3 separate regions of the Homo sapiens genome follow, and all the other regions are linked to region 1. The links come from fine-mapping of genetic effects on gene expression. A gene starts in region 1. Each other region holds a variant in brackets. All regions are shown on one strand. Distances are from middle to middle.

Region 1 (8,180 bases):
ATGCCCAGCTAATTTTTGTATTTTTTGTATAGATGGGGTTTTGCCATGCTGCCTAGGCTTGTCTTGAACTCCTGAACTCAAGCGATCCGCCCACCTTGGCCTCCCAAAATGCTGGGATTACAGGTGTGAGCCACATACCTGGCCAGGAAGCTAAATTATTTCTATCAAGATGAACTGTGAATCAATTAAACCTCTTTTCTTTATAAATTACCCAGTCTCAGGTAGTTCTTTATAGCAGTGTGAAAATGGACGAATACATGGGGAAATCATCTTGTAAATAAGTGACAGCTGGGAAAAGATAAAAGGAGAAAAGAGCCTGACACACAGCCCTCAACAACACCAATATTTAGGGGGATGGACAGTAGAGGAGGGAACTACGAAGAACAATAAGAAGGAGCTGCCTGAGAAGTACACAGAAAAAAATAGTGGATGGTTAATCAGAAGCCAAGAAAGAATTTCTAGCTCTAAGGAAGAGTCAACAAGTAAATGCTTTAGGAGATGGGATGAAGACTGAAAATGCTCATTGACTTTTTCCCCTGTAGACTATATACACTCCAGGAAAGGTGCAATATCTGCCTTGTTCGTTCTTTCTTTTAATACCTTTTTTATTTTAGATTTTTGTGGCTACACAGTAGGTATATATTGTGTTGTTCATTCTCGTATCATCACATGGAATAGAATAGATCCTCAATAAAAATAAGTTAAAGTAATGTGAATAGACTAACACATTTAAAAGAGAAAAATAGATTAAACTATGTTAGCTAAAGAGCTTCAACCTCACTCTAATTTCTTTCGTTGTGAGTTTTCCTAAGCTATTTTCTCCTAAAAATGTTAACTTTCCTTTCCCCATCCCCAAAAGATGGGTTGTTTTGCCAATAGTACCTTACAATTTTCTCAAAAAAGGTGTATATATTAGATAAAAATTATCTAGACAAAACTCCATAACCGTATTTCACCCCTCTAATCCCGTTATGTATGCTATTGTTGTGCCAAACTCCTACTAACCTCAATAGAGAAGGTACCAGGTTCAAGAGGCCAAGAAGAGACTGGAGAGCCAGTAAATGAGACATGGGTTTGTATTAGGAGCTTACAGTCCAGTGGTGACAGAGGGGAAAGAGTCCAGTGGCAGCGGGCTGGACAGAAGAACCAGCTATGTATAGAAGTGGTCCAGTGGCAGTGGGGTGGACAACACATCTCCCTTCCTGCTGTCCTCTGGCAGCGGGCTGGACAACATAATTGCACGTCCCAAGGGCAGGAAAACCGCAACTGCCTGTAAACATCATGCAGTTTATACAGCATTTTCACTGAACACCCTCCCACTAACGACCTCCACTTGGCAACCTGCATTTAACCCAAAACTCAGGGCCCTAATCCCCTGTATGGCCCATGTTCCAATGGATGGGCCGGTGGGTGGGGGTGGGGGTTTAAGATGTTTATCATAGACACAGAACAAATCTCCAGGTTGGCCACTCCCAGATTCCCTAGCTCAGAGCACACATTCAGGTGCATCTACCATACAGGGTCATTCTCAGGGTATGCTTACATTATTGCTATCAGATGCGTTTATGTTGCAGGTCTCTAATGATTTACACCTCCCTGGTTCCTTGCCTGGGGTAGTCCCAGTACAGGGAGAACAGCCCTTACGAGCTGATCTGATGCCATGTTAGGTACACCTGATTTTGAATTCATTTTGGCTTTTAGAGAAATCGGATAATTTCCCGATTTTTTTTTTTTCTTTTTTTTTTGAGACAGAGTTTTGCTCTTGTTGCCCAGGCTGGAGTGCAATGGCGAGATCTCGGCTCACCGCAACCTCCACCTCCCAGGTTCAAGTGATTCTCCTGCCTCAGCCTCCCAAGTAGCTGGGATTACAGGCATGTGCCACCACGCCCAGCTAATTTTTTGTATTTTTAGTAGAGACGGAGTTTCTCCGTGTTGGTCAGTCTGGTCTTGAACTCCTGACCTCAGGTGATCCGCCTGCTTCAGCCTCCCAAAGTGCTAGGATTACAGGCGTGAGCCACCGCGCCCGGCTCCCCTGATCTTATCTTTGTATTCTTTTTTATTGTATTGTATTTATTTCTGTCTGCCACATTTCATATCAAGACAGAATAACAGTGCTGCACATTAGGATCACCTAATTTTAAAATTGACATTTTAAAAATGTCAATGCCCAGGTCTCACCCATGACAGTTAAATCAGAAGGTCTGGAATAGTAAGCAGGCATCAGTGGTTAGTAAAGATCCTCAGGTGATGCCAATGTGCAGCAAAGTTTGGAAACTATTGGCACAACAGGTTTTAATCTCAGTTGTGACACTGGCCTTGCAATCTTGGATATGTAATTTAACTTCTCTGTAGAGTTAAATAACGTAAGAGTACCTATCTCAGTTAGTTGTAGGAATGAAATGATTGAAAATAAAGTGATTGGATCTGTGCCTAGAACAAAATAAGGGATACGAAATTGTGGGGCGGGGTTAAGATAATCTACTCCCTACATAAGTAGAGAAATGTCATAATTCATTCTGAGTTAGCCAGCCACACCCCATCCTTTAGCGTGGGCGGGCTTAACTACTGCTTCCCAGATGGTTTGAAAATAAGCTCCATGGACAACTCCTTCAGTGGTGAATAGTCTCTGCTCTCCTAAAATTTGTATTTTATTGGGGAGATAATCAACAAATACATACATAATTTCAGGCAGTGTTCAAAGAAGCCATGCCAAAGAAATAACCTTTACTCTGAATTCAGTGTGGTCTCTGGCTAAGAATATGCCCTGGCAGAAGGGAAGCCCTTTCTATTCTCTGAAAAGAAGTGTGTTTACCAAAGCATTAAATGATAAATACATTTTTTAACGGTGAAGTCACAGGTCTCACAGAAATACAAAATGAACACGTGTAAAAAATTTATTTACTCATTAACCCGGGGACCAGTAAGCTGTTAGAACCAGCTCTAAGCAGAATTTAAAGCACCCATCTATATTGTTGAATCAGGACTGGGGAATGAATTTACAAATCGATGCAAAATGGCTTTTCCCAAGGAAGGGTAAGATAACAATACGAGGGGTCTTACCGAGTTGTGCAGAGCACCACAAAGAAAAGCGGACAGCCCCTCTAGCAACAGAATGCCCGGGACGGTGTGCCAAACTATGGCTGTTTTTTCATTGAAGACATTCAGTAATTTTTTGTCCATTTCAATGTGTTTCATAATTTCTCCCTACAAAAAAAAATCACTCATCTCCAAAAACCCAGCAGCTAAGTAGTTCTTCTACATTATCTTGCTTTCATTTATCCTTAATCCTTTTGCCTTTGGCAGGGTTGGATGGTCTTTCTTCGCCCCCACCAAGGAGGCTTCGGAGGGAAAAGAGGGTGTAAATCCAATCCCTCCACTCCTCCAGGCACCCTCCCATTTCCGCCACAGGGGCGAGGATGGCTCAAGGCTGGGCTTGGCTCTGTCCCTTCCCCGCAGGCCCCGCCCCCAGCCCGCGCAATAATTGAGCTGCGCGCAAAGGTCACGTTATCAGCCTGTGACGCTTCCCATCCAGTACGTGGCACACATTGCTCAGAAAAGCCCCTTGTGCCCGCTTTCTGCCATCCGCGCTGTCTCGTGTCTCCCTTTTTCCATTAAATGCCTCTTTTCTTGCGGGTCTCATCTCGGGAATAGTGCACTACGGGGACATACCTATCCCCAACTATCCTAGGCCCGAGAACCAGCCCTTGCCTTCGCGTAACAGGCGGAGACTCGCTGAGGCGAGTTGCACTTCTAATTGGGCGTGAGGTCTTGTCAATCCCCAAGTTCTTCCAATCAGAAGTCCGGTCCATCCAGCCTTCCGCTCCCCATTGGCCTGTGTGGAGGAAGAGGGGTGGGTAAGCCGAAGTCGCTGCGCTCAGTGCGCAGGCGCGAAGAAGCTGGCAGGGGCACGAGCCGGGGGCGGGTTTGAAGACGCGTCGTTGGGTTTTGGAGGCCGTGAAACAGCCGTTTGAGTTTGGCTGCGGGTGGAGAACGTTTGTCAGGGGCCCGGCCAAGAAGGAGGCCCGCCTGTTACGATGGTGTCCATGAGTTTCAAGCGGAACCGCAGTGACCGGTTCTACAGCACCCGGTGCTGCGGCTGTTGCCATGTCCGCACCGGGACGATCATCCTGGGGACCTGGTACATGGTAAGGCGGGCAGGCGTGGCGCGTATGTCCGGGGGGCCTGGGGAGCGGGGCCTGGTGCGGAGGGGGTGAGACTGGAAACGGGGTGTTGGGTGGGGCGGGGACTTGGAGGGGCGCTGCTTTTTAAGGCGCGCCAACTCTGGATGAAGTCCAAGGACTTTGGGAAAGTAACCTTGTTCAGGAATCGGAGTCGGGGGAGCGGGGGGCGGTGGTAAGCATGGGGAGATTGTTCTTTGGCAAGAATTTGAGGAGAGAAGCGGGCTTGGGAGAGCAGAGGCTTTGCAGGCGAAGGGACGAGGGTGGTAGGATTTGGTGGGAATTCCTCTGTTTTGGTTCTTGTTGTATTTCTACGATCTGAAAGGCAGCATCTCCCTTCCTCCTATCCAGTGCTCCCTGGAATTTTTTCCTCTAATGAAATAATTAGGAGCGGACCTTGGTAAACGCAGTCTAGTTTCGACATTGGTCTTCCCGTTGGGAAAGCGAAAGATCCAGCGGTAACCCGGTTGTCCGCGTTTCTTGGACTTTGTTTTGTTTCATGCCTCTCTTGCATCTCCAGAATCGCTTGGGGGCGATAGCTTTTGCCTGAGTTGACGCCTGACCAGCTTTTGTCCTGGTGCAGCCTCCTCCCTGCGCAGTAGGTGCTTTTCGTAGCCGACCGGCTGTTTTTACAGAGACCTTTATTGAGAGCCCTCTCCATCCTGGCCACCTACCCCGGTATCTCCTGGGTTCCAAGATCTGTGTGATTCTGTCCTAACCAAGTTGACACTGTTGTTGCCTGGTGATTCACTAGTAATAAGTTTGTGATTTTTTCTTTTGTAATTCACCATTTATAGTATCCATGCACATTAAACCTAACTTGTCTATGACTTCCAAATATGGGATTCAGTTTAGGTAGTTTTAGGTTATTATGATTTTGCCGAAGCCGTGACAAACTTCCTACATGGTCGACTTGGCCACTTTAATGACTTCGCGAATGTGGTTGTGTGGGTGACGTTGGTGATACTGTGCAGTTTTTGATACTTAACTGCAAAAGAGGAAGAGAGTTATCCCAGACACAATCTGTTTTCTCTGTACTTGCTGCTTCTCCCCACTCATTGACTTGAAATCATTAGTAAGCATTTGGACAAACGCCAGATGAGAATCATCTTAAATGAGGCAGATACTGTTTCATGGCCCACCCCCGGGGGACTACCTGACTCCACATGACTGCTACCTGCCCTGTTGTTTTTTACCGTCTTGTTTCTGATGTACATTTAAAAAACAACACGAATGTGTAGGTTTGCTTGTGCTGAGTTTATTTTCATGTTTCCTGTACTTTTATATTCGGAAATACCGCCTTATTGACAGAACTATATCACATTTTCCCTCAGAGACTCTTTCGTTCTGTATTTTAACTGATTTGGAATACTAAACATAGAGTTAATGACCATCAGCTGCATTATGTTTCTAACTTCCTTTTATAGCTTCTCCATTTTGCTGAGGGGCTGGGTCTCATTTCTTTTGTTTGTCCTTAGCTCTGTCTTCTATTTCCCTAAATGAATAATTCAAACCTTGAGGATCCTCAAGGCTATTACTCAATTCCGTCTTCCTCACCCCCAGAAGATGACTTTCTTTCCTATTTAACTAAGAGAATCCATCGACCTGGCTCTCTCCTGCAGTCTTAGTCTTCCTGTTTCTTCTCAGATCCTTCCCTCCACTCACAGAACAAAGGATTCCTAACTCCTCAAGAAGAGAATACCACCATTTCTATTTCAACCATCCGAATGTAATTGGCTGTATTTCTTTTCAGTTTTTCTCAGGCAGATTTTTTGATGCTGTGGGCTCAGCTAGAAAATGAATAGAATAGCAGGATAAAGTGGGAACTACAAACAGGAAACTCAAAATGCAGAGAGAAAAACTTCATTACGGGCGCTTATTCTTACAAAATAGGGAGTGAGGAGTTTACATCTGTTCCCTACTTTAAGCCCTTGTTGTGAGAAGGGTTCACATACCTCTGAAGACCATGCTTTAGTTTCACAATTTTAAAAAGATGCCATAGCTGTTCTTACTTTGCATAGACTTCTCAGATTAGTGTAAAACATTTTATTGTAAACTTCTTAAATCGTTTGACCTGTCTTAAATTGATTAAGAGATTTACTGACCACCTGCAGTGTAAAAGGCTTTGGTGGACAAACAAAAGGAATAAATCACAGGGGCCATGTGTCATTTGCCTTGTTTTCCTATTACCTGCTAAGTGCTAGACTCTCAAATGTTTCTTGTCTAACACAGCATCTGCCCTTAAGATATTTATGGTATCACAAACTTGGAGCACAGATATGAAAAACATATGGTACAGTGATGAGGAGGAGGAGAAGGTGATCAGTAATATCAGATTCTAATCAGAATAAGTACTGGAAAAAGGCCATTGGTTTTGTTTATTATAGTTTTGTTGATGACTTTCAAAAGAGTAGCTTGAATACCATAGCAGTGTAAAGACAGTCTCTACCAACTTGGGGAGACATGTAACACTTATGATGCAAGACCACCTAAGCCAAACTGTAGTATAATACTTCGAAGCAAAGAAGGCTTGTCCAAGTAGTGCATTTTATTCTCAGAAGCTGCTTTACTAAGACAGAGAAACAATATGGGGATGAGTGAGTATTAAATGTCACTTCCCTCCCTACCTACCTTGTCAAGGTACTCTCTTGCTTGATTCCTGGTGAGGCAATAATTCAGTCTGCATGGGAGAATATTTATGTTTCTTTTTACATTACGTGGGACAGACTTCTGAGATGATGATTCCCCCTGTGTCATTTGGAACTTGGGGGAGCCCCTCTCCCTCGCTATCAGTGACTGTATCTGATACAGTCTCATTGCTTTCTAGCCACGGCTTCTACTGGTCTAGTGTTAAAGTATCGTAACACCATATACTAAAATATTCATTGTATGGTACAAAATAGTGCTGTGGGACATAGAGAAAGCCAGAACCAGTTATTATATGCACCGGAGGTACCAGCCCTGAAGTGTGAGCCTTTCGTATTTTAGCTAGAAAAGAAGCATACCTGGTTAAGTAACAGGAAATTTCAGAATGAGCTCATGTTTAAATTCTGGCATTCCTGAAATGGTTTTCTCTATCATTTATTGAAGAATTTGAAGCCAGTTGATTTTAAACAAGTTTCTTATGAGGTATAAACTCAAATGTTTATTGAATAATTGAAAATGGACTTAAAAGTGTGCTGTAGTAGATATACTTTGTGATTAATGGTGTGCACTACAAGACTACATTTTGAGCATTTGTAATAATTTTATCTCTTAGACTTAATATATGGCTAATTTTTCATGAGTGTCTCAACCATAAACAGTTTGAAGTTCTGTATCTGGGAGAGAAGTAAAAACAGGTTTCCTTAAGCTCTATTCCTTTCTAGCCCTCACCTCTGACTTCAAGTAAGCATAGCTTGTTTATATTTGTTAGTTTCCTTCCTTAAACTAAGGAAGTTTTGTGCCTCTGCCTTTGCATATGCTATTCCTTCTCCCTGAAATGTTGCTGTCCTCCCAAGTCACTTTCTAAAAATTTTATTAAGGAAATTTTCATACATACAAAAGTAGTGAAGTAGTACGAAAACCTCCCATTTATTCATCACCCAGCTTCAACCATTAACAACATTTTGCCAAGTCCAGATAATTTAATGGTTAGCTCACATGTTTTCGTGGTAAAACTTTCCTTTTTTTTTTTTTTTGAGACGGAGTCTCGCTCTGTCGCCCAGGCCGGACTGCGGACCGCAGTGGCGCAATCTCGGCTCACTGCAAGCTCCGCTTCCCGGGTTCACGCCATTCTCCTGCCTCAGCCTCCCGAGTAGCTGGGACTACAGGCGCCCGCCACCGCGCCCGGCTAATTTTTTGTATTTTTAGTAGAGACGGGGTTTCACCTTGTTAGCCAGGATGGTCTCGATCTCCTGACCTCATGATCCACCCGCCTCGGCCTCCCAAAGTGCTGGGATTACAGGCGTGAGCCACCGCGCCCGGCCTTTTTTTTTTTTTTTCTTTTTTGAGACAGAGTCT
Region 2 (8,180 bases), 23 kb before region 1:
TATATTCCATTTGCCACCCCTTCTTTGGCCCCATCTGCCCTGAGATGCTGAACAATCACAGGAACTTCACACCTTGGGCCACTGCAACCTGGAAGCTGAGTTAGCTCACTTTCCTCCTGACAAAATTATTCTAGACCAGGTCAGGCCTCAGACACATCACCTCCTCTGTGCCACCTTCTTCCCTCAGTAGAATTAATCATGGATCATGCTCCCTTGGTGTTTGGAGATATGGTACATTGTGTTAGTAGTTTACCTACCAAGCTCAATCTCCTCACCTCACTGCCAAGCCTTGATATGACAGGGAGCTCTTCAAAGACAGAGACCGTGTCTCACTCACTGCTCTGAGCTATGAGAAGATGGTTAATTATCTAGATTTAATTTTTATAGAACCTTTGGAAAATGTCTTGACATTTGAATATAAGCATACAGAATTTGCTTTCCTAGGAATGGTCTTGCTCCAAATCAAATAACGAAGTCACACAGCATAGGGCCAACACAGCATGGGGGGAAGTTGTTCTACATCACTCTAGCTCCCTGTGCTCCTATTTTATGCTAGGATGGACAGAACCATTGCCCAGACTGTTTTAACACTAGCCTCGGATTTCTGTTTACCTGCTTCATTCCTTCCCTGAGGCTGCTGAGTGCTCAAGGAAATAAGAAGAACAGGAGTGCTGGAGAGAAATGAGAACTGACATTTACTCGGTGTCTCTCACGTGGCAGGCATTGTGCTGGGTAATTAGTGTCTGCTCCATGCAGTGCATAAGAAGATGGTATATTGTCTACTGCTGGGTGCAACCTTCAATGTGTCAAGAACTGTGAAGGGTCTGATATTTGATCACACTTGCAATCTAGTAACTTAGCTTGCCACAGTTTCATATATACTGACAGAAGACATGAGACTCCTGGATCAGAGACAAAGGATTTATTACTCACCCCTAGCATAGCAAGCAGCATGAGCTTCATGCTTGTGTGGATTCTCCTCGCCCTGTAAGTCCCATGAGGCTAATACGAAGAGGCCCAGGTGGATGCAGTGTGTGCGTTTCACAGCTGAGAAACCTCAAGACTAGGAAGTTCCAGTTTTTTGTAATGAGCTGCAAACAAACCTCCTCAAACTTTGACCTAGAGGGAGGCAGTGTCTTTATTAGACTGGGCGGTGAACAAACTTGCTGTTCACTCCAGAGGGAGGCACTGTCTCTATAGTCCAAGGCTATTCATTGTACATACTTGAACAGATAATCCAGAACAAAAGCTGCACTCACAAGATGTGCAGAAGTATGAAAGACTAGTGAAGAATGATCTCCCAATACTATGTATGTATGTTAAATCACATCCATTAATTTTCTCAAATCTATTTTCTTTTGTGCTTGATGTATTAATATATGATGGAGGCATGCCAAATCTCTCACTATTATGGATTTCTCCCTGTAATTTTTTCATCTTTGCTTTTTGTATTTTGAAGCCATTTATTTTATTCACACTTTATTCTCATTACATTGGGCTTGGCAAAGTGTCATGCATCCGTGTATAGATCATGTTATTCTGTTGCTTTCAGAGGGAATTGGGATCCAGATTCTAATTGTCTCTCAGTTCAGAATCTGGATCAGAATCAGAAGAGGGTGGCCAATGCTGCTAGAGGCTGCAGGCTGCAGGCTGCAGGGAAGAAGTCAGGAAACAAGCATGGGGCTGACCGTGGGGGGCTCATGTTTCAGGGTTCTTATCTGGGCACCCAACGATCCCACATGCAGTTCGTGGGTGAGGGAGCCCACAGCAGCACCTCAAAGTGAACAGGGATGGCACAGGCCCCGGGCTGGTACTAGGCAGTTGGAAGAACAATTGCATCTGCAGAGGGAGGAACTGAAAAGACATCCTTCCATCTGTATCCCAGAATCCCGTGTAGGGCCTCTCCATCAGGACAGGGCTGGCACTGGCTCCTTGGCCTCAGGTTGGCCTCATGAGTAGTCCAGTAAAAGTCCTGCAAACTTGTCACGTGCCAGCTCCACTGTGTACCCGTCTGCTTGAGATGCTGGACAATCACTTTAGACTGTTCATGATTCTTCCTCGACTCTTCAAGAGATTTCTTCAAATTTAAGAGATTCTTTTAGGAAACTGTGGATCTCCTGGTCACTCCAAGTATTAATGAACTTGTTGGATAGTTTTTCTGGTTCCTCGGTTTCATTTTCCTCCTTTACTTCCTGGGGGTTTCTAGTGATTTCAACCTGAAGTCTTACTTCTTCCATTTTATTTCTGAGTTTTCTCCTGGGATTCTTTTCACTGCGGCCACAGGGCTTAATCTTGGGTTGCCAAAGAACTAGCACTCATTCTGTGCTAACGGAACCCAGGAGTGTTGGGAGGTGCCCTTGTGGAAATATGTTTGCTGCTGTCAGTCTCTGGAGGTCTCTCATTTTGAGGCTATTTAAACAGATGCTATACGGCTTTGCAGTTGTTACATCTTCCCAGTGAATTGAACCTTTTGCCATTATGTTATCCTCTTTATCCCTGGTAATGTTTTTGTCTTAAAAATCTATTTTAGACTGGGTGTGGAGGCTCGTGCTAGTAATCTTAGCACTTTGGAAGGCCAAGGCAGGAGGATTGCTTGAGCTCAGGAGTGCGAGACCAGCCTGAGTGACATGGCAAGACCCTGTCTCTACAAAAAATACAAAAATTAGCCAGGCATGATGGCGTGTGCCTGTAGTCCCAGTTACTTGCGGGGTTGAAGCAGGAGGATCGCTTGAGCCCAGGAGATGGAGGTTGGAGTGAGCCGAGATCACACCACTGCACTCCAGCCTGAGTGACAAAAGTGAGACCCTGTCTCAAAAAAATTTCTTTTTAAATAATAAATTAAAAATATTTTTTTCTGATGTCAACTTTCTTGTGGTTGCCATTTGCCTGATCTGTTTTCCCATTTTTTGATTTTCAAATTTTCCATGTTCTTATGATCTTGGTGTGTCCCATGGAAACAGCATATGGCTGAATTTTTTAACCAAACTGGTAGCCTTGATCCTTGAAAAGGAAAACTAAGAAAAATTAAATTTATTGTGGTTTTTGATATATTTGGACTTGTTTTTAGCCATCTTACATTGTGCTGTCTGCCCCACCACTTGGTTTTTCTTTCCTTTTTTTCTCTCGTGTCTTACCTGTGACTAGTTCTTTGTTATAGAGACTAGAAAGAAAATTTTGAAAGGGAAATGGGCCACAATGTTCATCAAGAAGAAGAAAACAAAGGTTACTCTACTAAACCCCAGCACTAACCAGGCCAAATGATTTTTTTTTCTCCACCAAAATAAGGGTTAATCTTGAAAAAATTTAACCTGCTTACTTACTGCTTTTTTTTTTTTTAGTAAAATAAGAAAAAGAACAGAGAAAAAAACAAAGCCTTTTTTGCAATCAGCCAGGCAACAACTGTTGAACACCGACTTTGTGTAAACCCCTGAGCCAGAGTCTAGGACAGGGTTCCCTCCTGGAGCTTCCATGCTAAGGGGAAAAGAGACAAGTGCACAATCAAGCTAATTCACACATGAGATCAGTACCACGAGTAAATTACAGAGGGTTATGGCAGCCAGAGAGAGACTGGGGCTGAGGTGGAGGAAGCGATTTCAGAGAGGAAGGTGTGGGATCGTTTCTCTGAGCTGACCTCTGCAGGAGGGAAGGGAGGTGACCTTGGGAAAGAGCAGGAGAAAAGGGTGAAGGTGGTGCAGGCAGAAGGAATCACAGGTGATAGGTTAAGAGACAGGAATAAACTAGGTCGGCTGAAGGCAGGATGGAGGCAGGGTGGCTGGATAGGAAGGAACCGGGCAGAGCTGGATGAAGTACGAGGCAGGATCCGGATCACCACGGAGCCCCAAGGCCATGGTAAGAGACAGTTATGACCTGACTTCATTTGTAAGTTTATCATTTTGTAGAAAGAACTTTAAATAGGGTAAACAATTCATCCCAGATTGCCTAGAACATTCTCAATTTTAGCATTGAAAGTCCTATGTCCTGAGAAATCTCTTAGTTCTAAGCAAACTGGGACCACTGGTCACCTTAAGTGAATAGTGAGTATAAATCCTGGTCCACATTTAGGTCTTCAGGAAACACCACTTTATTTCCAGTAGCTCAGCCTAATTTTGCCTTAAGCCCCTCCCTTCCTGAAACGTCATATTTGAGACCACTTTTCCTTTCAGGATCACAAGGGAATCCTTATTTGACACTCATGAAACATGGTGAGGGCCTCTAGTTGGCATGATTATAACAGGTGCTCTGACTGTCCAAGACTAGCATGCCCCCTTTAGTGACTCTCTGCAGGTAAAGTCCGCTTCCTTTGTTGTGGGACTCAGGAGGACGAGAGAGACCTCACGTTGAAACAGGAGAATCTTTATTGAGTGCACTCAGGCCCAGCTGACTCACATCCAAAAGACTGGGCCCAGAACAAAGACAGCACCTGACTTTTATACACACTTCACAAAAGGGGGTGGGCTAGCTTGAAGCAAGCTTACGGTGGTGTGAAAGCAGGGACACAGAGGCAGGACAAATACAGGATTGCACATGACCGTTGCCAAGCAACCCAGATGTCCGTTATCTAGGTTTGCCTGGGCACGGGCTTATCTTATAA[C/A]CTTCACTATGGTGCCCAGGCAGCTGTAGTTCAGGTCTACTCAGGCTTCTAATGACCTTCGTTGTACTTCTTAGATAAAACAGAATACTTGAAGTCACTAGTTACAGAGAACAGCAATCTATAAACTCATTCCATAAAACAAAGGAAATTTTGTCTTTCTTTTCCCTATGTTGAGGGAGGGCTGGGAGAGTCTCCAGAGCACATTAGATAATATTATCAAGACTTTTCCTGGGTCTGGGCTGTGCCTGTTGCTGCCTCTGGGACAAGTCAGCCCAATACAGGAAAACTTATTTCTCTTTCTTCTTAATTTTATTTTTCTTTAATTTCCTGCCTCACCTTAGCACCTCAGCCTGCCAAGCTCTCTGATCTGGGCACCTCCTAAGGCCTCTTCCTTGGAACCTTGACTGGGCTCCTCCCTGCTCTCGGGGATTAAGGAACTCCCTCTATTCTCAATCTAGAAAAAATCTCATCTCTGTCCTTGCTGCTGTGTCCAGACACACACACTCTCTCCCCACACCCCCCAGGACACCTCGCCAAAAGTCATCTCTGATTCAGGCTTCTGCAAAAGCTGAGATGTTGTTAGGCTGCCTTATAGCCTTTCTAGAATTCTAGAAACATGGGATTATCAAGTCTGTCTACCTGCTTGAAAAATGATGGGAGGGATGGGAGAGTGAACCAAAGAAGAAAAAGGTACAGACAGAACTTTTCAATGACTTTTTCTACACAAGGAAAAGCAGAGGGATAAGGTAGGGAGGTATTGCATATTCCAAGTGACAGAGGATGGTAGCTAGGATTAGAGAGGTGGCAGTGGAGATGGAGAGAGGGGACAGTTGTAAAGCATATTTTGGAAGTAGTGCATGCTGAGGGAGGTGGGAGATGTGGGGACAGAGGCACTCAAGGATCACGCCTTGGGTAATCCTTTCAGCTTGAGCATGTGGTGTAAATAATTTCAGTCTGAATTGGAAACTAGGGGCATATGCCCACATACCAGACCAGAATGTACAGCAGACACCATTTCTGCCTTAAGAGGGAAAGCTCTGGAAGGGGGTATGGCATTGAGGGGGACCATCTTGCGGACTGCTCCTCTTTTACGTGAGGGTGGCAGGTATACAAGCATACAAGCCACCATTGGCAGTTTATTTTTTTCAGAAACAAGGACTCACTTTGTTTCCCAGGCTGGAGTGCAGTGGCATGATCATAGTTCATTGCAGCCTCAAACTCCTGGGCTCAAGCAATCCTCCTGCCTCAGCCTCCCAAGTAGCTGAGACTACATGTATGAGCCACCATGCCTAGCCAATTAAAAAAAATTATTTTTTGTAGAGACAGCGTCTCGCTATGTTGCCCAGGCTGGTCTCAAACTCCTGGCCTCAAGCAATCCTTTCACCTTGGTCTCCCAAAGCATTGGAATTACAGGGATGAGGCACTGTGGCCAGTCCATCGGCAGTTTTATATCTTGGACGCTCTAAGGGGCCTTGGTGATATTTGTCTTTTGTAATGTGGTACTTAAAAATATGATGCAAGACAGTGATAGGATAAGCTGTGCTTTTCTCAAAAATACACAAAAATGTACTTAAACCTCTTTGAAAAGTTCAGAAAATAAACAAGATTTTAGTTACAGGTTATGTTGGGGAAGGGGAAGCCTGTTACATTTTTAGACAGCTAGAGCAGTGGGACGAACTCCTTTACTAACTTTTTCCCTTTGATATTGGTGAGAGTCAGCAGTTGATTGTTCACTGGGTCCTGAACTATGAAATGCTAGTTTTCTGGAAAGAAAGAAAAGGAAAAGAAGGAAAAAAAAATCCACTAAATAATTTCCCTTCCCTTTCTACTCCCTCCGACTCCCAAAACAAGAAACGCCAACAAAACAAACAGAAACCCAGTCCCTTACAACGTGCCCCGGGTTGAGTGAGTGAGTGGCATGTGGCCTTGGATTCTTTCTGCTCACTGCTTTGAAAACAACCTCCAAAGGAGTGGGTGGGGTGGTCCTGGTGAGACTGGGAAGCAGAGGAACAAGTCCGTCTAGAGTTTGGGGGAAAGTCAGGGGAAGTGGGAGAAGGGGAGGAGGCTGCTAGGAGCCTGGGAAAGAGGACAAAGGGCTGGAGGAATTTGAATTACACAGTGAATGTCAGCCTGCCCTTAACTACTACCAGATGCTGAGCCTGAGTTTGCAACATATGTTGGCTGAAATTGCAACACATGTTGGCCTTTTTTTTTTGGAAGCAAAGCCCTGTTATTGTGGAGTCAGAGTCTTAAAGAACTGGGAAAGCAAAGGTATTATTACCTGTCCTCATTTGCAGGGATTTCCTTTGCAAGCCTCCTGTGAGAAGGTTATCTTTCCACACAGATCTGCAAACCCAAAAGGTCAGGTCTGCATGTACCCTGCAGCCAGAAAGAAATTTCACTGGGTGAGGCTCACCGTCTGGGAACCTATGTCATCTTCCCCAGCCTGGGGCTAAAAAGTGAGCGGCCCAGACTTCACTGCAAAGAAAAAGCTCTGTGTGGTGGAGCCAGTGGTGCTGCTTGGCTGACTCAGCCCCCTTCTGGCTCTCACAGCCCCTCCGTGCCCCTTGGAGCTCCAGCCCTATCTTTCCTGGTCCCTGGCACAGGCCGTCCACACCACTACAAACGGGTGAACCGTACTCCTGGATCCTGTCCAGGCCACTCAGGAGCACATCTCTGGCCTCCATCCCTGTCCACCCCCACTTGCTATGGCTTTCGCTCTAAAACGGCCACTCCTGTGCCTGCAGCCCTGAAGCGGGAAGGCTGGGATACATCTCTAGCCGATGGAGCTGGGATGTAAAGCCAAGGTTTCTTCTGCATATGCCATAAAATTTTAAAAACACAAAAAGTAGAGAGTGAAAGAAAAAATAAGCTGCCATTCTTCCCTATTCCCTAGCCTCTCAGTTTCCCATACCATTTTCTTTTCTTTCTTTCTTTTTTTTTTTCCTGTGAGACAGAGTTTTGCTCTTTCGCCCAGGCTGGAGTACAGGGGTGTGATCTCAGCTCACTGCAACCTTCGCCTTCCGGTTTCAAGTGATTCTCCTGCCTCAGCCTCCCAAGTAGCTGGGGTTATAGGCACCTGCCACCACACCCGACTAATTTTTGGTTTTTGTTTGTTTGTTTGTTTTGTTTTGTTTTTTAGTAGAGATGGGGTTTCACCATGTTGGCCAGGCTGGCCTCGAACTCCTGACCTCGTGATCTGCCCACCTTAGCCTACCAAAGTGCTGGTATTACAGGCATGAGCCACTGCGCCCAGCTCCTATACCATTTTCTTACAACCATGATAATTCCATATATAGTCGTTTATATACACAAATGCATAGTGATGTTTTAGTCAATGATATACCACATATACACCAGTGATCCCATGAGATTATAATGGAGCTGAAAAATTCCTATCCTCATGACATCGTAGCTGTCATAACATTATAACATAATTGTTTTTTATAAATTTAGTATAGTGTACAGCAGGGGTCCTCAACCCCTGGGTCTCAGACCAGTACTGGTCCATGGCCTGTCAGGAACCGGGCCATGCAGCAGAAGGTGAGTGGCAGGCGAGCAAGCATGACTGTCTGAGCTCCGCCTCCTG
Region 3 (8,180 bases), 300 kb after region 1:
GATGGCTTAGCTAAATTGTTTCAGCATCACTGGAGCCAGTTTTAAGGAGCAGGTCAGTTTGGAAGGATTAAGGAATTATATGTGATTAAAAAAGTTTCCAAAATGAGAAGCCCCCAGATGACACTGTCTGAGAAACAGGAGCCAGTGGCCAGTTTCTATTCATTTTTCAAACTGAGATGAAGACAAGCATTTTACTGGCTTTTAATTTAATACCAGTGAGGCCTCCCACATCAATCAAGGCTTCCTCTGCATGTGACCTGGGAGGGCTTCTGATTTGAGAGGCAATTCTGAGAGGTGCTCAGGGATTTGGTCAGACACATGCAGATACAGCCTCAGTTCCTTACTTGAGTGCTAGTTCTAGCTTTACCACGGTCCCCTAATGTGACGTGTAAGCTCTGTATGTGAGATTGGGTGTGTGATTGTGTACTACCAGATGAACACACCTATGGATACGCCCTTTTAGGCTGAACTAAAATTGCCTTTCTTGGATGGTGAAAATAATACCTGATCATAAAAAAGGATAATCTCGAGGCTATTTCTTCCCAGCAGAAATTCTCCCGTAAGCCTTCTCGCATCTGTCTGCCCCACCAAGCCTGTGTGTGACCCCAGAGTCTGGTTGTTTTGCCTCATTCAGGTTTCTCTGGGTCCCCGGAATGATTCAGGATCCACGCTCTCCGTCAGCTCTGGAACGGGGCCAAGCGCATGCCTGCCTTTCTGCTGTCTTCATTAATACTGGGCTTGTGTCCCAGCATTCCTGAGAAATTGATAGAGACAGAACATCAATTGTAGTTTAGCTCTACAATGGGGAAACTCACGGTGACAGACTGGGGGATTTTTTTGCCAGGGAAGTCGATGGGCCCTTTCCTGGAGCAGCTCAGTGTTGAGGCTCTCTGGGCTTTTGTGAGGTCATCGAGTGGGACATAAGACAAGAGCAACAAGCCGCTAATCTGCTAATTGCAGCCTGGCTAAGTGATATTACCTTTGTGTTTGGCTTTCCTGGACTTGAAGAATGGCTATGTATGTGCAAGAGAACAAAACCAAGATGCCTTCTCCCAGACTGGGAGGAAGCTGTGGTGTCAGATTTAGAACTCAGCAGATCCAGACTGAGGCCAGCCTGGGCAGCTGTGGTCTGACCTGGAACTCCCATCTGGGGAAGGGCACAGAATGGGGGCAGAAGAAGGTAGCCTGAGCAGTGTGGGTACAGGGTGGGCCCACTCAATGTCTGTTAGATTCCTCTATTGGTTTCCCATGGTGTTTGAGAACATCATGTAGCTGTGGCCTCTTTGGGTCCCCATTGGTCAGGTGATTTTTGAGGGGGTGGCTGCAATGAGCAGGACACACCAGAGTGGGCAGTTCCTGGGTGGAGAAAACATTTGTCTTTGCACTATGGGCAGGGAGAGAGGTGGCAGATCTTTCCCAAACCCACCCACTTCTCTTGCATTCTTCATCTTAGTAAAACACCGTCTGCCACCTCGTTGGTCAAGTCAGAGATCTTGGAGTTGCCCAAGACTCTTTCCCCATTTCCACTCCAGCACCATGGAATGGCAATTCCTTCCTCTGTAATCTCTCTTCAAGCTGTGCCCATTTCTTCTTCCCCTCTGGAACCTCCCTTGTCCAGGCCTCTGTTCATGCTGGGCCACAGCGGTAGCCTCCTACCAGTCTCTACTTCTAGTCTTGCCTCTTAATAACTGACTTTCCATCCTTCACACAGAGTCATCTTTCTAAAGTGCAAATCTGGCCATGTCACTTTCCTGCTTAAACCTTTGGAAGGTTCCCCATTGCCTTCTGGAACAAGTTCAAACCTGATCTATGAGGTGTGGCCTGGCCCCACCCCCTCGCCAGTTGTATCTGTCATCATGCCCTCACTCAGGTTGCTGTGCCCCTCTCAGCCACTGTGAACCTCTTGTAATTCTGGGTGCTACCAGGCTCTCTCTTGCTTCTAGCCTTTGTGTGTGCTTTCCTCTGGATTCTCTTTCTCTTTTCTATTGGCTAACTCTACCCTTTTTTTCAGGTGCTAGGTTAGGAATTGCTTCTTCTGGGCTATCTTTTCTGACTCCCTCAGTCCAGGCCTGGATTTCTCTACGCTCCCATAGTGTTCAATAAATTCCCACAGCAAGTACTGATCATACCGATCATAGTACATAGAAAAGGCCTATTTGTGCAGTGGAAGATTTTTCTTTTCTTTATAGAGGGTTCAGAATTTCTCTTGAAGAAAGAATTGAATTTATTTAGGAAAACATCTTGATAAGTCACTTGGTTTAGAAGGTGAGACTCTGGGGGCCTGGTTTCCTAGGAGATGAGGAAACAAAAGAGATGACTAAGCTGTTACATATAAGGACCAGATGGGAATATAGGTGTTAGTGAGAACAGATCAGGGGAATTGGACATGGAGAGGATGGTTGAGCCCAATGGTAGGCTAGCCAAAGAATTTTCAAGACCAGAATAACTCACGTTTAATTAAAGTTGTAGGCATTTTTAAGGCATAAACATCTGTCAGCTACCCAGACCTCTAGTAAAATTTATCCTATACTCTAAGGACTTGTGTGGGTGTGTGGTATAAATTCAGAAAGTGAGGTGGGTTCATGTCTGGGTTTCTTCCATGCGGAAGTAAATAGCCATAACACATTGCAGAAAGGGGAAGAATCTAGAAGGGAAAGATGTCACAGGTGAATACACTAAATCAGGATGGGAGCTCTCCTTGGAACACACAGGAACTTTGCATGTAGGAGCAGAGGCTATTGCATGTTCTGCAAATTGTGGATCAAGGATGTAGACCAACTTTACTTAGATTTATAAGCGAGGGGACTCCACTTGAAACAGGGGTTCCAATTTCTTGTCTACTTCCTTACTGAGGTAGACCTAGGAAGGAGGCATGTTTCCATTATACTAATCCCACAGTAAGCTTAAAAATGGGCATGCAAGGAATGAAAGAAGAAAAATGATGAAAGGTAGGAAGTAGTAGGTCTAATTTGTGGCAGCTATTTAAGCTTTCAGAAATATCCTGGACAAAACTGAGGTCTCAGATCATAGGATTCATGGAGGAAGTGAGACAGAGGAGGCTTACAGATTCCCAGCTGATACCAACCCCTTCTACGTGCAGGAACTGCTGCTTGATCCCCTTCCAAGAACATCTTATCTGAAAAGGTGACTGGGCTTAACAGGGACCAGGACGCTGGCACAGGGAAGGAGCCTAGGCATCGGGCTGAAGGCCAGACAGAAGAATCAGGGCTCATCAGCACATCTGTGGAATGTTTATTTCTGTGTTTCCAGCTCAGGACTAGATGGCTGGAAACTACATATTGACTCATTATCTTCAGAGCCATGAATGAGATGTGGTCCCTGCTCTCAAAGTATTTACTGCCCCTCTGGAAAGCAGGACATGGGTGTAGGAAAGGAGAAGGTGCACAGGATAAGATGTCGTATGAGTTGGACTTCTGGAGCCTGGGTATGGGATGATCTCTCTGATCCCTGTGAACATCATCAGGTCTGCTTGGCTGTGGCACCTGCTGGAGCCAGAAGGTGAAGCCCAGGGCTTGCCATCACAAGCCTTTGAGCCATCTGCTTCCCCTGATGAGTTGTTATTAACAGTTTTGTTTTTGTGTGTGCTGTTCTTGTTTTATTTTTCATAATTATTCATGTTTTGTCCATATTTTATGCCATTATCAAAAAAATAGGATCCTCTCCCACATAATGGATTTAGTGATAACTTAGATATTAAAGGTACAGATAAATTGGTTTTTGCTGTGTGAAATTGATGGGCTTTTCTAAACCCCAAATCAAATAAATGCCTTGTGGTGGTCTTAATTAATCATCTTTTACCATACTACCAAGATTATTTTTTCCCTATAAAAAAAGGTGTCTGTCAGTGGAACAACCTGAACGAACTGGAATGTTCTTGCTTAATTTAATTGCCTGGAAGAAAACCTCATAGTTGATGGACTTTAATCAGATCCTCTTCTCTGTTCCCTGGAAATCTTTCTGAAGTACTGCTCCTAACCCTTGGTCCCTGGGGTTTCTCCCCCTCCTGAGGCCAGTGTGGGAGTAGTTCTTTGGAAAGCTGGCGGGGAATAGCAATAGTGAAGAGTGTGTGTGTTTTCCTCTCTGAGAAAGGTCACGGGAAAGCCTTTACTAAGAATAAGTTTTCTTTTGGAGGATATTCAGCACAATTTGGAGTGGGCCCTTCAGTGAGGGCTGCACCCTCTGGAGTTTCTGGGGGTGTCAGCAGCAAGAGCAGCAGCCTCAGACTTGGGGAAAGAAAATGCCACTCCCCCCATCAAGGGATGCCCACCTTCCCTTGGGCGCCGGTGTGTCTATCTCCTTCTGAGGAATAGACCTGGCACTGGGAAAGGCTTCCTATAGCCCCCTTTGCTCCCTGATCTGTCCTTCCAGCACTGTATTTCTCCTATTTCACAGGGTAGCCCCAGCCTTAGCATCACTCTAGCGGCTCTGAGTGTTTGTAGATCCTGCCATGGCTAGGGTATGTATGGTCCCTAGCCACCTCGCCTTTGCTCATGCTGTTCCCTTGGCCTGGAATGTCCTTTTCCCCGCTTCCTTCTGTGGCTGACTCCCCTCCGCCCTTGAATATTCAGCTCAGGT[G/A]TCAGCTTTTCTTGGAAATCTTCCTTGGGTCCCAGGTTAGATGTTTCCTCTGAGCTCCTAGCATGCCCTATGCAGACCTTAGTCCTAGCTCCAGGTGCATGCTATTGAATGAAGTTTTTGCTGGCTTGTCTTCTTTACTAGACCCCGTGACCCTTGAGTGTAGGGATATTGTCTGCTTCATTGTGGAATTCCCACCATTCAGCACAATACCCAGTGGGGTGGGTACCCAGGAAATATTGTTGGATATGAGAGGGAAGGAGGGGAGAGAGGGGTAGAAAGGAGAGAGGGGGGTAAAAGAGACTGATTTTAGGATCAGCTTTCAGGAATGGTACATGATCTCAATGTTGTGCTCTAATTCATGGCTTGCTGACCCTCTCCATGTCACTTGAGTACTGACCCAGGGCTCAGCTGCCACAGGTGCCTCAGACCAAGGGTTAGAGGATCTGAGTCTTGGAGCACTTGTATCCATCTGCAACTGGTTGAAAGCTCTGCTCTAAATGTCTTTCTCCCTGTGAACAGGCTCTGCTCTGGCTTGTTAGTAGACTCACTTTCCCTCAATGTGCCCTGTATTTTTTAATCTCCCTCCTCTTTACTTCTGCCATCCTCCGTGCCTGGGATACCTGTCTTTGCCCTTGTCTTCTGTGTGAGCTCTTTATCTATTTTCTAAGATCTTGTTCCAGCCCTGTTTCTGGGACTCCTCTACTACCACAGCCTGCTGGCCCACAGACCTCCTTCTCCTCTGCATCCCGGTGGTCCTGACTCAGACCTTCTACATTGTCACTTAGCATTCACAACTCGCCATTGATCAATGTCCCCCTTGGGATCCTGTCTCACCAGGAGAACAGTAAGTAAACGGCTGACCAACTGTGTCTCTCTGACTCCTCCGCCTGGTCCCTAGCCAGTGCTTGGTGGGTGTCTGGAATCCTTCCTTCCTTGGACTGGTAGCCCTGGGAGGCTGCTCTAGGAAAGGTGGGCCCAGAGCTGCACAGAGGACAGGGATGGGGGTACCCAGAAGTGGAGTAGGTGGGTGTTGGCATGGTGTGGTTTCAGGGACCTTCCATCCAATAACATCTCCACCTAGAATGCCACCATTAGAGACTGCAGTCTCTCACAGACAGCATTTTTGACAAGGCAGAAGCAGCCCAGAAGAGAAGTTTACACTTCTGCTTTGGGCCTATCTGTGGCCAGGAGAGTGTCAGAGGGCAAAGGACAGGAGAGAAGCTGCATGGCGAGGAGAAGGTGAGAAGGCCCACTATCCTGACTTCTCCACGTCTGTGTGGGCTGGCCCAGCTGCAGGAGGCTGGTACAGAAAATTCAGACAGACCCAGGCCTCCCTCTGCTTCTGCCAATGAAACTGGGACCACCCTTTCCAATTGGGAGAGGCCACTGCAAATGAATTGCTTCTTTGAAATGTCCCCTGGAGTCATCCTTATGGAATCAAGATGCAGAAAATAGTTTAATGAGGACACCAACCTGCAGGTGTACCTGTGCTAATTCTGTAGACAAAGGCACTAACCTGACAGCTCAGGGAGGAAGGAGCCATTAAACCTCTTTTGGGAAACATCCGTCCTGCAGGGCCGACAGAAGCACCTTGCTAAAGCAGGAAGCAGGAGGCAGGAGGCAGGACTCTGCCCCATGAGCCTGGCCTGCTGGCCTGCCCCCCTGACAGGCTTGCCAATGTCCATGGGGCCCAAGGGCTGCTCCTCAGCAAACCACGGCACAGGGAACCCTGTGGGTTGTGAGGGGACCCTGTAGCATGGAAGGTGGGGAAACGAAAACAGGATAGAAATTCCCGCAGGAAGACTGAGACAGTGGACGGAGAGTTCAACATAACAGTGTTTGGAGATTGTTAACTGTGACTCATAGTAAGGTATATATTTAAAATCATGCTCTATTGCATCCTGTGTGTAATGAATATACACACATTCATATAACTGAAACAAAAGTTTCACGAAACAATACCTACCTTTACTATGAGCGATGCACTCTGAACATTATATTCCATTCTTCCATTTAAAAGAAGAATGTTGTGTAAAGCTTGTTGTGTCCCATTACACTGATTTCACAAACCCACTGACGTGCTTCCCACAGTTCCAAAAATGCAGATCAGGTAGAGGCAGGAGTTGGACTGGAGAGCAGGCAAGGCTGAGAGGCCCAGGGGAGATGGCATAACCTTGACCTCTATATTTTTTCAGCGGGAAAACAACTGCATGCCCCTGGCAAGGTTTGTTGTAAAAGTTCGATGAAGTAATCTGTGTAAAGTACTTAGTACGGGGCTTGACATTGCCAGCATTTCATATCCATTAGAGATGCTGCCGCCGCCAATGACGATAATGATACTGATTTTGATTTCCGTCTTCTTGGATTGTGAATGTACCCTGCTGTCCGCTGTGACGCTACCTCCTTTCCTAAAGCCGCCACCACTGGCATAAGGTTGCCAGCCACATTTGTAGCTGTTTGCAAGCTCCTCAGAGAAGTGAGATGCATGTTGAGAAGATGCTGGAGAAGAATCAGAGCTTTGTTTAGGGCCTACAGTTAAGGCTGGGACCTCGATTTGTAACATCTGCAATGTGTTTGCAGCATGAAAGATTCTCTTGCACTTCCTAGGCTTGGTAAATGATGGAGACAAAGGACAGCAATGTAGAGAAGCAGAAAAGATGTCAGCCAAAAATGGCAGAGGAAAAGGTCATAGACTGGGCAGAGGCTGCCTGGAAAACAGTGGTAGACCGGGAGTCAGGGCAGGCAGTGGCCACCAAGTTGTTCCACGTTTTGGGCAAGTCTTTCTTCATGCTCATTCTTGATGGTGAGAAGCTCTGTGTCTCCCTCTCTCTCACCTGGACCTCTCTTCCCTGGCTCTGACATGGGAGAGGGCAAGAAGACAGGAGGGAGAAGTGTGCTATGGGAGTACCTAGCCCTGAGCTGCTGGGGACCGAGGTGGACAGGCCCGGCACCTGGAAAGAGACCTCTCAGGCCTGCCTGGGAGAGGCAGGTCACCTGGCTCAGGGCTGAGCAGCCACACCCATTTTGGTCGCAGCCTACAGGAAGTCCTCTTTGGAGCCCTCTGGCTTGCGCCCTCTGTCGTGTGGATTTGGCACATTGCAAAAACAGTGGGCTCCTTGCCCCTTCCACATGGCTCATATGTTTTCGATTCCCTCTCTTCTCTAAAGTGAGCTGGAGATGTTGGTGTCACAGCAGGGCAATGCCGTGAAGCCTGGAAGAAGGGGGGCAGGGCAGTGAGAAGCCTGGGCCTCTGGGTGGGCTGGCCTTTGGAGAGCAGGTTGTTAAGGTGGTCAGCTCCAGGCAGTCGTAGATCTTTGCAGGCCTGACCTGGCCTGTTAAACCCCTGGGGGTGATACCAGAGAGCCCGGAGCTCATTGCTGATACAAATGTAGGCTGCGATTCTGAAGGCAAAGGTGGGCCATGGTTGGCCTTCCTAGAACCCTCTGGCTCCCAGTGGTTGGATGCCCCTGCTTTCCTCTGCAATGCCCCATCCCTCAGGGCGTTGGCCAGTGGCAGTGACTGCTGGCCTCGGGAGCCCAGGCTGAGGCCAGGCCAGTGCCCATGCAGCTTTGTGCTGCTTCTTC

Direction of the effects. Positions count from the first base shown, and alleles are read on the strand shown. Sizes are in standard deviations (SD) of each study's normalised expression. Not every link is listed here.
As copies of C replace A in region 2, the expression in pancreas of the gene that starts at base 3,927 in region 1 goes up (moderate effect, 0.63 SD a copy in GTEx).

Evidence for each region. PIP is the estimated chance that this variant, and not a neighbour inherited with it, causes the effect.
Region 2: its variant is fine-mapped to the expression of LAPTM4A in pancreas (GTEx, PIP above 0.99). The same link has a PIP of 0.9 or more in adrenal gland.
Region 3: its variant is fine-mapped to the expression of LAPTM4A in whole blood (INTERVAL, PIP 0.98).

What each region holds. Positions count from the first base shown.
Region 1 is chr2:20,047,375-20,055,554 of GRCh38, reverse strand. LAPTM4A (lysosomal protein transmembrane 4 alpha) reads left to right here and starts at 3,927. Exons shown (of 7, transcript NM_014713.5): 1 at 3,927-4,145. The coding sequence starts at 4,035. It overlaps LAPTM4A-DT (LAPTM4A divergent transcript), which reads right to left and starts at 3,418. Exons shown (of 5, transcript NR_187142.1): 1 at 3,061-3,418. RefSeq lists enhancers at 3,917-4,116, 4,652-4,791.
Region 2 is chr2:20,070,578-20,078,757 of GRCh38, reverse strand. All of the region lies in intron 2 of LAPTM4A-DT (LAPTM4A divergent transcript), which reads right to left. Among named protein-coding and RNA genes, the nearest start is that of LAPTM4A-DT, 23 kb to the right of the region's middle. The variant C/A (reference allele first, on the strand shown) is at 4,592.
Region 3 is chr2:19,747,664-19,755,843 of GRCh38, reverse strand. No RefSeq gene overlaps it. Among named protein-coding and RNA genes, the nearest start is that of LINC00954, 120 kb to the left of the region's middle. The variant G/A (reference allele first, on the strand shown) is at 4,597.